Linked DNA regions of Homo sapiens: region 2 is linked to region 1. A link means that fine-mapping ties the variant in region 1 to the expression of a gene that starts in the linked region. Tissue or cell type: whole blood. Region 1 holds a variant in brackets; the other region holds the start of a gene. All regions are shown on one strand. Distances are between the middles of the regions.

Region 1 (8,104 bases):
CCTCCAACTTCAAAGCCAGAGCCAGCATCTTCAAATCTCTCCCACTCTTCTCTCTCTCTCTCTCTCTCTCTCCCCACCGCCTTCTCTCACCCTCCCTCCTTCTCTCCCTTTCTTGTCCTCCAGCCCCACACCTGCTGTCACTCTGACCCTCCTGCCTCCTCCTTTCCCTTATAAAGACCCCACCTTGGACCCACCCACATAACCCAGGATCATCTTCCACCTCAGGCCCCTTGACATCATCACATCTGTAAAGTCCCTGAGGCCACACAACACAGCACATGGACAGGTCCCGGGACTGGGACACAGCCGTCCCTGGGCCCTAATTCAGCCCAACCACAGCTCCTTTCCTTCCTTCCTCTCTCCTTCTCTGGGTATAAGAAGGGAATGCAGAGAGGTTGGTCAATGAATACACACTTACAGTTAGATGCAAGGAATGTGTTCTAATGTTGGATAGCAGAGTAGGGTGACTATGGTTAGCAATAATGTATTGTATATTTCAAAATAGCCACAAGAGAGAACTGAAATATACTCAACACATAGAAATGATAAATACTGAAGCCATACCCCAAATATCCTGACTTGATGATGACACGGTGGATGCACAGAACCAAACAGCACATGTAACTCAGAAATGTCCAATATAGGCCGAGTCTGGTGGCTCACACTTGTAATCCCAGCACTTTAGGAGGCCGAGGCGGGCGGATCATGAGGTCAGGAGATCGAGACCATCCTGGTTAACATGGTGAAACCCCGTCTCTACTAAAAATACAAAAAAATTATCTGAGCATGGTGGCGGGCACCTGTAGTTCCAGCTACTTGGGAGGCTGAGGCAGGAGAATGGTGTGAACCCAGCAGCCAGAGCTTGCAGTGAGCCGAGATTGCGCCACTGCACTCCAGCCTAGATGACAAAGCAATACTCCACCTCAAAAAAAAAAAAAGATATTTCCAATATCATGTATCAGTATATTCTTTTCTATTAATAAGAAAGGCAAGAAAAAGAAGTTAAGCATGAACTAGCCATTTGACCTAGCAATTCCAGCCCTAAGAATTTGTCTAGAAGAAATGAAAGCATGTGTTCCAAAAAGACGTGTACATAAATGTTCTCAGCAGCCTCATTCACTATAGGCAGCAACTGGAAACAACCCAAGTGTCCGTCAGCTAGAGAATGGATAGACCCATATGGTCTGTGCATACAGTGGAGTACTGCTCAGTTACACAAGGAAAAGAAACTATGGATACAGGTCACAGGAGGGATGAACTTCAAAACATTACAGTAAGTGAAAGAAGTAAAACTCCACGAGAGAAGTTGGTGGGTATGGATGTGTTTTTGAACTGGCAGAATTTTACTCTGTTCATTGGGGTATCAGGTATTGAGTCCCTATTGACCAGGTACTGTGCTAGGTGTGGCCATTACAGAAATCAGAAGCAGACACCAGCTCCATTGTGATGAGACTCACTCGATCAGCCATTTCTGATGAACAGTGAGGTACCTTGACACTCACTGCTTACATTTGCAGGCTTTACTTAATGCCACTTAAATCTCCCTGTTCCCCAAGTCTCCTTTCTTTTTTCTTTTTTTTTTGCTAGACAGATTCTTGCTCTGTCACCCAGGCTGGAGTGCAGTGGCACCATCTCGGCTCACTGCAACATCCATCCCCTGGGTTCAAGCAGTTCTCCTGCCTCAGCCTCCCGAATAGCTGGGATTACAAGTGCCCACCAACATGCCCGCTAATTTTTGTATTTTTAGTAGAGACGGGGTTTTGTCATGTTGGCCAGGCTGGTCTTGAACTCCTCCTGACCTCAGGTGATCCGCCTGCCTAGGCCTCCCAAAGTTTTGGGATTACAGGCATGAGCCACCGTGCCTGGCCCCCACATCTCTTTTCTTTCCAACTCCCCTTATTAGACACAGCTTTTTAAAGCAATCCCTGCCATACCCATGGCTTCAATTGTTTTCTATATGCTCTGATGAGAATAAAATTTAAATGTTGTTTTTATATAACAGCTTTATTTTACATGACACCTCATTCACCATGATCATAAATTCAGAGTTGCTCTAAGAAAGTAATAACTAAAAAATTGTCATATTCTTTGTATGTAAATGTTAGGAAATTTCGTTAATGGTTTGACTTAACGTGTGTGTTATTTTTTAAAACATGAGTTGTGATGTCATAGAATGGACTTAGCCTACAGAGGTTTCTATCCAACTTTCAAGCAGAGAGCTCCATTTCAGTGCGATACTTAAGAGTCCAGAACTATCTTTTTTTTTTTTTTTTTTTTTTGAGACGGAGTCTCACTCTGTCACCCAGGCTGGAGTGCAGTGGCATGATCTCGGCTCATTGCAAGCTCCGCCTCCCAGGTTCAAGGGATTCTCCTGCCTCAGCCTCCCGAGTAGCTGGTATTACAGGTACCTGCCATTGTGCCTGGCTAATTTTTGTATTTTTAGTAGAGACTGGGTTTCACCATGTTGGCCAGGCTGGTCTCGAACTCCTGACCTCATGATCCACCCAGCTCGGCCTCCCAAAGTGCTGGGATTACAGGCGTGAGTCACCGTGTCTGGCCCAAAACTATCTTATTCCCCATACCTATTCCTCTTCCTACATTGTCTGTGTAGGAGAAAGTCACTGATATTTACCCAGTCCTTCAAACTAGAGCCTTAGCAGCCTGTTTTTCCTTTTCCTTCCCCTGTTCTTCCACATCTAATCCTCTAGCACTACCTGTTCTCTCTCCCAAATGAACACAAAACTTTTCCGTCCACTTCAGTCATTTCCTCTGCCTTTGGCCTTATCTGTTCTCCCAGATGAACATAGTGTCTCTCTCTCTTTTTTTTGAGACAGAATCTCTCTCTGTCGCCTAGGCTGGAGTTCAATGGTGTGATCTTGGCTCACTGCAACCTCCACCTCTCGGGTTCAAGTGATTCTCCTGCCTCAGCCCCTCGAGTAGATGGGACTACATACAGGTGCCCGCCACCATGCCAGGCTAATTTTTGTATTTTTAGTAGACATGGGGTTTCACCATGTTGGCCAGGCTGGTCTCGAACTCCTGACCTCAAATGTTCCACCCACCTCAGCCTCCCAACATAATGTCTCTTAATTGGTCCCATTGCTTCCATGAGTCCTTCTCTGTTGTGCAGAGAGACCTCACTGCAAACACGTCTGATAGAGACTCCTCATCTCTATGTGGTTCCGTGACTCTCATGTTGCTAGAATAAAATTTAAACTCTACTTAAACTCTACTGCTGGACAGTGAATGAGTCTTTGTATTCCAGGTTCATTCACTGCCCAGCAGTGTAGTCTTACACAACTGAACTCTCTAAGCCTTGGTTTGCTCATCTGCCTGAACTCACTGAGTGTTGGGACTGTTTCAGGACCATGAAGTGCCTCACCCTTAGAAGGGATTTAATGTTGAATGAAAGGGAGGAATTTAAAAATCCACATAAAAAACATTTTTTTGTTGTTTTTTGAGATGGAGTCTCGCTCTGTTGCCCAGGCTGGAGTGCAGTGGCACAATCTCAGCTCACTGCAACCTCTGCCTCCTGGGTTCAAGTGATTCTCCTGCCTCAGCCTTCTGAGTAGCTGGGATTACAGGCATGTGCCACCACGCCCAGCTATTTTTTGTATTTTTAGTAGAGATGGGGTTTTGCCATGTTGCCCCAGCTGGTCTCAAACTCCTGACCTCACGTGATCCACCCACCTGGGCCTCCCAAAGTGCTAGGATTACAGCTGTGAGCCACCGCGCCCAGCCATTTTTCTTAAAATAAACTAATCTACAATGTCACTTCCCCTCCATGCTTGACTTCTACCTTTACTTTCTGATAACCACAGTCATCTTGTGGGGATCAAGACTCCTCAGGATTAAAATCTGGCCCCACCTTGAGCAGTCGTGGGACTTTGGGGAAGTTACTTGACTTTTCCATCTAGATTTATTCTCCAAAATCTATAAAATGCGACTGTTTCTGAAGGTTAAATTAGTAGGCCACAGTTGGAACAGTGTCAGACACATAATGCTTGCCAGATGTTGACTATTCATCTTTATCAAATGAGGACAATGGTACCCCACTGTGTGGTTCTTAATTTTGTATAAGAAAATAATGTTTTATGCATTATTAGTAAAAGAAATACCTGAGGCTGGCCGTGGTGGCTCACACCTGTAATCCCAGCGCTTTGGGAGGCTGAGTCAGGTGGATCACCTGAGGTCAGGAGTTCAAGACCAGCCTGACCAACATGGTGAAACTCTCATCTCTACTAAAAATACAAAAATTAGCCAGATGCGGTGGTGCATGCCTGTAGTCCCAGCTACTCGGGAGGCTGAGGCTGGAGAATCACTTGAACCTGGGAGGTGGAGGCTGCAGTGAGCCGAGGTCGTGCCACTGCACCCCAGCCTGGTCAACAGAGTGACACTCCCATCTCAAAAAATAAATAAAAAGTAAATAAAAGAAATATCTGAATACCCCTGCCATGGAAAGAAGAAACAGCGAGAAAAGGGAGTTGGTACGTCCTAGCATTACAGAACTGGGAAGGATGTGTTCAGTCCCTATTTTATAGACGAGGAGGGAAGTGTGATGTGTCCCAGGGTTTCACTGAGGATACACAGCCATAACTCTCTATTGAGAGTGGGACCAGGGCCCTGGGGGTAGCTATGGTCAAGTTGCAGACAAGAACTAACACTTGTAAGACAGGAGAGAAGCATTTAGTTACAAAAGCAGTCAAAAACTTGTGTATAACTACATTTGGTGAGCAAATGAAAGCTGTCAGACTCAAAAACAGAAATGCTGGTGGAACTGACTTTAGTAACTGGGGTTTTCTTTATTTTATTTTATTTTATTTTATTTTTTTTGAGAGAGTTTCAACCCTGTCACCCAGGCTGGAGTGCAATGGCGCGATCTCAGCTCACTGTGCAACCTCCACCTCCTGGATTCAAGC[G/A]ACTCTCCTGCCTCAGCTTCCAGAGTAGCTAGGATGACAGGTGCCTGCCACCACGCCGAGCTAATGTTTTGTATTTTTGGTAGAGATGGGGTTTCACCATGTTAGCCAGGCTGGTCTCGAACTCCTGATCTCGGGTGATCCTCCCCCATCAGCCTCCCAAAGTGCTAGGATTACAGGCGTGAGCCACCGTGCCCGGCCGTGCCAGGGTTTTCTATTGAGTTTCTTGCCAAGGGTGACTTCCAATAACAATCCCCCCCTGCACTTTGCTTAGTTCTGGAAAGCTCAGGCCGCACAGGGTGAATAAAAGCCTGAGTAGTGCAGTCCCCATGGAGGGGCAGGGGTGCCACAAGGTGGGCAGCAGCTGGGATGGGCATTGTGAGGCACTGGGGGGGCTGTGGGGCTGGACATGGTGAGTCACTAGCCTGACCTGTTTCCTGGTAACCAGGTGACATAGGAAGCTTTGTGGGTTATAGGCATTAGCCAGGCCAGCAGCCCTCAGTCGGTAGCTGGCAGTGGAGGGAGGAGGAGCTCCGACTGTGCTCTTTGACGGCAGTTTTTGTGCCTCTTGGCGCTTGTCGTGTTTCTTTTTGAGGTAAAACAGTAGGTCCCCGACCTCATAGACCATCCAGTTTGGGAGGTGGCGGCAGACTACGGGCTGAGGCCCCAGATCTGCCTGGGGTCAGGCTGCTTCTACAAGTGCAGGGCCACCCTCAGTAGTGTGGCTGCTAGGGCAGCACAGTTACAATTTCATCGAAGGCTCAGGCAGGAGTGGAGAGGAGTGTAGGTGCCCCACGGGGAATATACTGACCTGTCGTGTGTGCCCCAAAGTCAGCTCCGACTGTGGCTGGCCCAGGGGGAAGGCAGCATCCAGTTATGAATCTGATATTTATGAGGCCGTGGCTGCTGCAACATCAGAATCCACTACCGTAGAGCCTGGCAAGCTGGATGTGGGAGCCACGGAGGGCCAAGACCTGCAGCACATCAGCAACCAAAAGATGCCCACAGGTAAAAAAGCCACGGGTGCCGTTTACCCTCTGGCACACCTCTGGCCACCCCCACCCCCTTCCCTTACCCTCATCCCCAGAGACATCCTCAGCTTCCAGCTCCCTCCTGTCCATAGCCAGCTTTCCCAGGTCTGGGCATGGGGGACAAAGGCTGGCTCTGCCTCTTGCCTTAGACATTGAGGCTTTTTTGATCTAGTCTCTCCCTTTTCTCAATGAAAATTCAAATACCCCAATTTTGGAGTCCCCATCCCATTCTCTAGCCTCACCTATCCGGCCGGTTTGGTACCTAAATGAAGGAACCAGCTAAGGGTCAGATTGTTACTTTTCTCCCAACCCTTAAAGTAGCTAATAATTGGGATAATTCAGGCCCAAATATTTGGATTTTTTGTTTTTTTTTTTTTGAGATGGAGTCTCACTCTGTTGTCCAGGCTGGAGGGCAGAGGCATGATCTCAGCTCACTGCCACTTCTGCCTCCCGGGTTCAAGCAATTCTTCTGCCTCAGCCTCCTGAGTAGCTGGGACTACAGGCACGTGCCACCACACCTGGCTAATTTTTTGTATTTTTAGTACAGGTGGGTTTCACCGTGTTAGCCAGGATGGTCTCTATCTCCTGACCTCATGATCCACCTGCCTCGGCCTTCCAAAGTGTTGGGATTACAGGCGTGAGCCACTGCGCCCGGCTGGAGATTTCTTAAATTCAAAATTCAAAATTATTATTTTTTGAGACAAGGCCTCATTTTGTCACCCAGGAATGCATTGGTGCAATGACAGCTCACTGCAACCTTGACCTCCTCAGGTTCAGGTGTTCCCCCCACCTCAGGCTCCCAAGTAACTGGCACTAAGGCATCATGCCAAGCTAATTTTTCTATTTTTTTTTTTTTGTATAGATGGGGTTTCATCATGTTGCCCAGGCTTGGTTCACTTTTAATAGTAAAGGACACCTCAAATGTTTAGATATTTGCTTTCACTTTGGGCAATTATGAATATAGCTATTAAAAACCTTGCTGTGTCTTGTTTAAAAATTATGTTTCCAAAATATAACTAAGGAAATACTTAGGATTATAATTACTTGCTTGTATGGTAAGACCAGGTTTTTCTTTGTAAGAATTTTGGGGCTGGGCACGGTGGCTCACGCCTGTAATCCCAGCACTTTGGGAAGCTGAGGCGGGTGATCACGAGGTCAGGAGATCAAGACCATCCTGGCCAACATGGCGAGACCCCGCCTCCACTAAAAATACAAAAATCAGCTGGGCGTGGTGGCCTGTGCCTGTAATCCCAGCTACTTGAGAGGCTGAGGCAGGAGAATCGCTTGAACCAGGGAGTCAGATGTTGCAGTGAGCCGAGTTCGCGCCACTGCACTCCAGCTTGGTGACAGAGCAAAACTGCGTCGCAAAAAACAACAACAAAAAAGAATTTTGGTAGAATTTTTTTTTTTTTTTTTTAACCAGTGAAATCATATGAATGTAGTGTTTTTGGTTTTTCCTTCTTTTGAAAGATTATTAATCATTGCTTCAATTTCTAAAATAAATATAGGCCTATTCAGATGATCTATTTTTCCCCAGAAGACTTTTGGTCTTCTAAAATCGATAAAAAGGAATGAGCTCATTTCATCTATGTATCAAATTGTGGGCATAGATGTGTTCAGAATATTCCTTTATTATTTTTTGATTTAACTGCTCTTCAATTGATGCTATTAGTACATTGTAACATCTTTCTTTCCTTTGTGGTTAGCCAAGGTAGAGGTTTATCAATGGTACTGATCTCAAAGAACTGGCTTTTTGTTTTATTGATTTTCTCGGATGATTTTCTGTTTTCTATTCCATTGATTTCTGCAAGAATTGTTTTTTAAGCTTAGAGTATGAATTTAGATTTTTCTCATTATTGACACCGCGTCATGAATGTAGTTCACTGAATTCAATCTCACTGAAATGTACACTAAATAATTAAAATAATATGTATGCTTCACCATAATTTAAAAAGTAAAACACGATAGGTGATAAATGTAGTAGCAGGATATGTAAATCCACAGAATTAAATGGTCTTGTAACATTTTGAAAAATGAGGGGATTGGCCTGGACCTTCAAATGGGCAGGAGGTGTGAGGAGATGCTCTCACAGAACCATACAGTGCCTTTCTGTATTAATCAGTTCTTAACGCTAATATTTCACATTTCTCCTCCTCT
Region 2 (8,104 bases), 240 kb after region 1:
TTACAGCATTGCTCTCACGGCAATCCCATTAACAACACTGAGGCAGAGCTGAGACACAGAGAGATTAGACAACTTGTCTAAGGTCACACAGCTCAGAAGGACTGGTCTTGGGCTTCTTATCCATTTGTCTTTTGAGCCCATGCTCTGAACCACAACACTGTGGCTTTTCTTTAGAGTGAGTCCCTGACCAGCAGTCCCCATAGAGAAATGTGTTTCCACTCACATATTGAAAGGAGAGTACTTCTCTACTGAACATCGTTTCAGTGCTAATAGCTAATAGTTTAATAAAAGCAAAGCTTGGCATCATACCTTTTGGCAGATCTTTATAAAGTTGTCATACATAGAGCTGCCATTAAAGCTTGTAAAGCTTTGTGGATAAAAGCAGCATGAAAAGCAGTTCATATGATGTGTGTGACAACAAACAGAATTGTGATCCAAATTACAGGTGAAACGGGACAGTGGCCCCTGGGAGGCTAGAAATACCTGCAGAGGCTTACGGAGTGAGATGTTTGTAAATAAAGCCATTCAAACATCAATTGTGTGTGGTTTTCTTGAGAAGCAACTGTATTTAAGGGACTGCTTATACAAAATCAAGTTCTTCTTAGCAAGGATTGCTTTAAATATTCTGACTTGAATGAAGGCCAGTCATGTTCTGCCATTTTCAAAAATCTTCTAACTGGAGTCTTAGAGTTGATTTTCTTTTCATTTGTGATTAATTTTCCAGAATAACATTCCCAGCTCCCACCCCACCCAGCGTTTATAGTCCAGAGATTCTGAGAGTAGGAAGTCTTAGTAAAGCCCAGAATCTAAAACAAATAAGACCAGTCAGTTCTCTAGTTAGCTTTTTTCCTTTCAAGTTGTTAGCAATATAAACTCTGGAAAGCCTAAACTTTAATGCACCCATCTCAGCAACATCTCCTGTAACGATGGAAAGGCATAGAAAAGAAGAAAAGGGAACATTATTAATCTTGTGGGAACGCTGGAGTTTTGTCTATTATCACAAGCAGCGTGAGCCCCAAGTCATTTAAATCCTCTGGGGGTGGGAGACATAATTATTTGCAAGGGAGCATTATTAGCTAAGTACAAATGGGTTGCTATTTGTTTTTTCTGTTCTTTGTGATGATTACAGGCTGGGGATGGTGTTTAGTAACAGGATCCAGCAGGTCAGTTATGACAACTTCATCATCACTGTCATTAACCCCTTTTGTTTGCAGTGAACACAAAAAGCTGTTCAGTATCAAGAGAGTCAAGAAAAAGGGAAAGAAGAGGGGGTGGAGAAAGTGAGACAACCAAAGAGACAGCCAGGGAACAGAAATTCATACACTATGAACACCAGAAAAAAATACCCCTGGGTAATTGAGTCAGCTGACTCAAATGGTGTAGGGGCCTCAGTTAGAGGACCAAATTTTGGACTCCTTGGTCTTTCTGCCAAAAGAGTAATTGCTCATGTTTATAGATGCAAATGTTTTTGCCATTTTGGTTCCTAGAAATGCCCTAGGGAGATGTTATTTTTGGTAAGGGGTCTTCCTGCTTCAAGTGTAATGACTGTGAACAACTAGTTTCAGTATCTTCTCTAGCATGCCAGGGTAAAATGAAGCAAAATAAATAGAGGAAGTGCCATGACCTTTATTGAGGATCTACTGGGTGCCAGGCAAAATGCTTTTTTTTTTTTTTTTTTTTTTTTTGAGACAGGGTCTTGCTCTCTTGCCCAGGCTGGAGTGCAGCAGTGCAATCTTGGCTGACGGCAAGCTCTGCCTCCCGGGTTCCTGCCATTCTCCTGCCTCAGCCTCCCAGGTAGCTGGGACTACAGGCGCCCGCCACCACGCCCAGCTTATTTTGTTTTTGTATTTTTAGTAGAGATACAGTTTCATCGTGTTAGCCAGGATGGTCTCCATCTCCTGACCTTGTGATCCACCCACCTCAGCCTCCCAAAGTACTGGGATTACAGGTGTGAGCCACTGTGCCTGCCCAGTGCTGCGATCTCGACTCACTGCAGCTTTCGCTTCCTGGGTTCAAGCGATTCTTCTGCCTCAGCCTCCTGAGTAGCTGGGATTACAGGCGTGCACCACCATACCTGGCTAATTTTTGTATTTTTAATAGAGACATTATTTTTAATGTATTTTTCCTGTTGGCCAGGCTGGTCTTGAACTCCTGGCCTCAAGCGATACACCTGCCTCAGCCTCCCAAAGTGCTGGGATTACAGGTGTGAGCCCCACGCCCGACAAGGTGCATTTTTATGTGCTTTTTCTCCTCTGTCTTCTCAACAACCCTGGGGTAAAAGGCCTCATTTCCACTTTTCCTATGAGAACAATAAAGTAGAAAGAGGTAAAAGACTGCCTCTAAGATCACCCAGCACAGAGCAGGGATTTGATTTCAGGTGTGTCTTGTTCCAAACTTAATATACTGTGCTGCTGGGGGAAAACAAAGAGCAAAAGGTTCTTAACTGAAGTCAAAGACGACCAAGAAAATGTAGGCAGATGTCAGGTCTGATCATGTGGATGCTCAAATGATAAACAGACACATTGAGAGAAATTGTATTAATTAAATCATAAAAATATGTTCCGCTTTTTGGGGAATTTACTCCTCCTCCTGGGGTGACCCTTGACAAGACATTCTGTCTTCCTGTTTTTAAGCAAAAAAAAAAAAAAAAAGTGGGTAGAAGATGAAAGTTTGATATTTCGCTCATGCATAGCTTTGTCTCCTTAATATATTTTGTGCTTGCCTGTCATTTCAGCTTTCTGCTGGCAGACGAAGCTCCTTCAACTGCCATTCCTACTTCTGACACTCCTCTTGTCCTTTTCAGGACAACTTTATGCCTATTGTGCCTTGGGTCTTGAGAAGCATGTGGTAAAACTGGCCAGTGGTGATGGCAGGCATAGCAGGGAATCAGATTGAGGGGGGCTGTGGCGTGGGAGAGAAAACAAAAGAGGGAAACAGGCTATTTGATGACAGAATCAGGCTGCTTCTGCAATGACATTACATGAAATATCTGAAATTTGACCTTAACTGTATCTGGTGGGTCCCGTTAACCCTGTAAGTTATGGACAGAACGTTCACTCAAATTCTAGCAACGTCTAGGCTCATGGAAATACGTGACCAATTCAGGTGAATGAAAGGGATTTTAAAACATTAATTTCCAGCTTAGGTCTTCCTAAGACTGCCTGCGTGTCCCTTACCACCACTCCAGCCTGAGTGTCACATGGATCCTGAATGCGGACTTGTGTGCACACTGTAGAAAAATAAGCAACTGAAAACCCCAGGCATCGGGGTGGAGTGATGATGAAAGACACCGAGACCGAAGATCAGGAAGCTGGAAATTCCCCCCAGCTTCGGTGTTTGGGCTGTATCTCGCTTTTCCACTTCCCTAAATCACCCTCGTGGTGCGAGTGTGCTCGCAGCAGATGCTCCCTAATTGTCTCTTGTATTGACCGTAAAACCCTAACGACAGGAATACTCTCTCTCCTTCTATTTCTCAACACCATTTCAACACCCAAACTAAAACCTCTCACCTGAGTGTAAGGGAGTGGTGACCTTCTTAAGCGGAGAGCTCTTCCATCAGAGGGCTCCCTAAGGGCATCTCTGTTCCTAGCCGGGGAGCCGTCACCCCACTTTGTTCTGCTTAGCCTAAGACACGCAACTTTTTCCAGCTTTTACTCTTCGCTGAATTCTCACGGTGGGGTTGGGGGGATGTTCAGGCTCAGGAGCGAGGTTGGGGGCCCGGCCCGCTGGGCGCTGTTCACCGGTAGCCCGGACCAGAGCAGGAGTTTCATCATTACCTGCTGGGATAGGTGGGACACATGTATTTCCGGGGCCACCCCAGACCTCCCGGAGGATGCTGATTGACACTGTCCAGTTTGAGAACTACTGTGTCCAGGGAGCAGAGGCCTCCCCATAACCCCTTGGGTTGTGGACGTCTGGCCCAGGGCTTCTCTGGGTGAGCGGGGCGGGCATCAGAGCGCGTGGAACCTGGGGCGGGAGGTCGGGGCAGTGAAGGAGGAGGAGAAGGAGGAGGCGGAGACCGAGGGGGAGGGAGGGGAGGAGGAAGAGGAGGAGGAGTCCCTCGTGGCCACCCCGAGGGGAGGGCGACCGTAGAGACTTGGTCGGGAGGCGCCGGCCCAGCGAGGCCGCTGGGACTGTGCACTGAGGGGCGCTGACCGTTGGACGCGCGCTCCCCGCAGACCCTCGCTGAAGGAGCAGGGGGCGGCGCGCGTGCGCGGGGCGCCGGGCGGCGCGCGAGGGGGCGGAGCGGGGAGGCGTGCTGCGACCCCGGCCGGCTACAGCCTGCGGCGCGCGCAGAGCGCTAGTGGGGCGCGCGGCGCGCGCGCGGGGCGGGGGCGCGCGGAGGGGGGGGCTGCCCCGGGGCGGCCCCCCCAGGTCGGGGCGCGGCGGGCGGCGGCGGCGGGCGCGCGTCCCGTCCAGGTCCGGAGTAACCGCCGCCGCCGCCGCCAAAGCTCGCCAACATGGCGGACCTGGAGGCTGTGCTGGCCGATGTCAGTTACCTGATGGCCATGGAGAAGAGCAAGGCGACCCCGGCCGCCCGCGCCAGCAAGAGGATCGTCCTGCCGGAGCCCAGGTACCAGCTGCCCCGGCCGGCGCCGGCCCCAAGCCGCCGCCCCCTGCGGCCGCCAGCTACCCCCTGCTTCCTGGAGGGTCGGGCGCTGAGCCTCCGCTGCCCCGGGGCGGGTGACACAGCGGAGCGGGCGATGCGGGGCCGGCCTCGTCGTTCCAGTCTCTGAAATGGGGCATCGGAGGGCCGGTGGGGGGCACCCCGGGAGAGAGCGCTCCAAAGTGCCCGGCGCGGCGCCCTGCGCGCAGCGAGCGCCCCAGCCAGGGTCTGGTTATGACTTGGCTGGACCAGCTCCATCCCTGTCGCCCCCTCCCCCCAGCCCTGTCCTGTCCTGCCCTGTCCCATCCCCGTGGTTCTTCCTGTTGCATTGGTGTAGTCCCCGTTGGCTCCTTGCCTGTCACTGCTTTGCGCTCCATCCTGGTCGCTCCTTCTTCCCGGGCTCATTGGTCCCCCTTTCCAACTCCATCCTCTCACCTCCCTCTGGGCCGCTTACCTGGGGACTGCAGGCTTGTTGCTTATTGTCCGAGGTAGTTAAACTGCTGTTTTCAGTACTTGCTCTTCTTGAAGTCTATTAAGTCTAGTCACCTTCTTCGGCTTCTCTTCTATTTTGTCCCCGGGCAGGATTTTGACCCACTCAGTATTCTTTTTGGTGCCAAGTGTGTCACCTGAGCTGCTTTCCTCAACTTGTAGATCTACTGGTGGCACTTTATTAAAAAATTGAAACAGGAGTCACTTAAAAAGACACTTGAATGGGTGATTCCAGACAGGAATTTGTTGTTAAATTATCAAAGGAGGGCCCGATTGAATTGGCGAGGGGCTCGGTGAGGTGCATACCAAGTTGCAATTTTCTCTCAAATGATTTATTATTAAGGTACTAGTAAAATTTTTTCTAGTTCATATCATTAGCACTTCCCCAGAAAAAATAGTTTGTCTGGTTAATAGTGAGTTTTAAATAACGTATCAAGGCTTCAGTGATGGATTTTTTTTTCTCTAGCTCCTTTCCTAATTAACACCATCATGAGTTGTACAGCTAATGTGATTCCTTGATGCTAAATAGCTCTTGGAATTGATGCTCAAAAGAGGCATCTTGTTTATGGTGAATTTGAAACCATGCAATTCTGTAAAATATTGGAATCTAAACCAAAGTTATTGTCCATTTGAAATCATCAGTCCTTCAAGCGTTAGGCGCCCAAGATTGCTTAAATGTTACCTAATGCTAAGTGATCATCATCTGATTTTTTTTACAAGTCATCCATGAGCCCTATGATACAGAAAATACCAGTCCCCTTGTTATTTGTTGTGAAAAGCTAAATTGTGCAAATGAAGACATGCTTGCTAGGTATTTTGAGCTTGCTTTTCCTCCTTAGCCCATGCCTCTTGTTGGTTTTGCAGGATGTGCTACTCTTTGATAGACAATGCCAAGTAGTGAAAATGAGGGAAAAGTGCAAACCTTTCTGCAATGTCGTGAGTTTAACACCCCTATTCCAGAGTGTAGCATATCTGAAGCTAATTGAAAAAAATCAATGCTGCTTAAAATTTCCGGCAAATGGGAAACTTACTTAGAGAACAAGAACGCCTACATCAAACCTAAATTTCACCAAAAAAACTGTACATTTCTAATGTGGTAGAAAAAGGCTTAATTCCTCTTTTGTCTTGCCTTTCCTAGTGTCCCTCCACCACCCAAAGGCAGGGAGTCCTAAATATGTAGTATTTCTATATACAAAATTGATAAATCTCAACTCATGGGCAGTTTTTTTTTTGGGGGGGGCTAGTATATAATATTAATAAAGTTAGGAACTTCTGTTCAGTTTTTTTTTTCTTGGTGTTTGGAACTTAATGTGACTTCTGCTTTTTTAGTGTCCCTCTTAAGAACGTACTTATGCACTTAGGGTGTTCACTTCCTTGTATGAATGCCTTTGTTTTTCAGTGGTATTCTTTGGTAATGCTTTCTTTTAAGGCAGAGTAAGTGACAGCCAGCATTATTTCTCATGACATTTGAAAATTGAGAAATACCAACCAGAGAGTAATTTTAGGAAACAGCCCTTCAGTAATTGTTACTCTGTTGCTCTTTTTAAAATAGACTCTCGAATTGGGCCATTGGAACCTCCTCCTGAGATTCTAATTTGTTTTCTACTTATCTTAGTGGCTTTGGCTTTAGTTTTGTAATGTAGCTATTTACATAGTAACAGTCACTCCTTGTGCTGTGTTAGGATTCTGTTACATTGAGATTATCAGGTATAACATCTTGCAAAATTCTCTCTACCACTGGATGGCAGTTAGTGGCCTACCTATTTGATTTGGAGGTTGGGGGTTGGGGAATTTCTAGATCCTGTAAAAAAGTTAATTGCATGTTAAAATGCCCCAGCCTAATGACTTAAATAGCTGGTATGACTTCACACTATTGGTAAAAGGGATACGGGTCAAATGTTTTCTGATAAGTTTCTATTTCAGCTTCATTATAGAGGAAGCCATGTGATCACCAGTTTTTGGTATTCTTGAAAGAGATGTTCAGATTTGTATTTTTGGTATCTGAATGAGAAGCATACATTTTAATTTGCCTTTGGTCTATCACTAGTGATTTTTTTATTTCCAGCAAATTATTTGCAGTCACTATTCTTTGTGCTTCCTTATTTTAGTTACTTTGCCTTTCCCACAGTTTTAAACAGAAGAGCATCAGAACGAAATATCTAGCTAATTTAAATGAAACACTGGGTTTGCAGCTTCCTGCCTATTACAGGAGAGTCTCAGAAAATGGAACATTCTGCCCAGGGGAGATTTTGCTTCCCTGAGATGGCAAGAGGCAAATATTTTGTTATGTTGACACTTTATTCAGTTAACCAACCAATGAGTGCAAATCCTGGAAAAGCTGACTGTTTGTCCAAATGGTATAGCTGCTTTAGTTTACTGAAATGTTGTTGAGCTAATGTAGCTGATAATGGGGCCTACTGGGAGTAGTAAACTGTGACCCACAGCCTCCCTTGCAGGCCCAGTTAAAACAGGAGCATTTAGATGTGCAGGCCAGTTGTTTTACATCATGTTGGAAAAGAAATACTTTTATTTAAGTAAGGTCTAATTCACAAGCAAAGGCCCACAAAGGGTCATCATCTTAAGCCCTGGAGTGATTCAGACGACTTTTACTGTAGGCTGTATTACTCTGTTACTCTTTTTTTTTTAAAAAAAACAGAATGAAATTCAGATGACTTGAAATCACATATAGTTGAAGGCGGTTGAGTAATGTGAACTTCATCTTTCCCCTGGAGTCTTATTTCTATTTACTGGACATTTCAAATGTTGGATCACCTATTGCAAAGCTTGTCCTTTCAAAGTATTCATACAATATGATAGGAAGGTCTGAAACAACATTTTAAAGATTCTTTATAATTTTCTAGGAGCACTGACAGTCCTTAAAGGACATTTATGATACCGTTTATGACATTAATTCAGTACATAGTTGTAGAGCCATTTCTATGAGCCAGGCACGGGGTACTATGACAAACCCAGCCACAGCCCCTTCCTTCATGGAGCTTATAGACTAGT

Evidence for each region. PIP is the estimated chance that this variant, and not a neighbour inherited with it, causes the effect.
Region 2: it holds the start of GRK3, and the variant in region 1 is fine-mapped to the expression of GRK3 in whole blood (INTERVAL, PIP 0.98).

Annotation. Positions count from the first base shown.
Region 1 is chr22:25,321,815-25,329,918 of GRCh38, forward strand. No RefSeq gene overlaps it. Among named protein-coding and RNA genes, the nearest start is that of CRYBB2, 110 kb to the left of the region's middle. The variant G/A (reference allele first, on the strand shown) is at 4,920.
Region 2 is chr22:25,560,581-25,568,684 of GRCh38, forward strand. It overlaps GRK3 (G protein-coupled receptor kinase 3), which reads left to right and starts at 4,095. Exons shown (of 21, transcript NM_005160.4): 1 at 4,095-4,573. The coding sequence starts at 4,461. GRK3-AS1 (GRK3 antisense RNA 1) reads right to left here and starts at 4,836. Exons shown (of 4, transcript NR_183564.1): 1 at 4,500-4,836; 2 at 3,510-3,779; 3 at 2,723-2,901; 4 at 308-918. RefSeq lists silencers at 4,021-4,120, 4,431-4,680 and enhancers at 4,792-5,307, 6,590-6,769.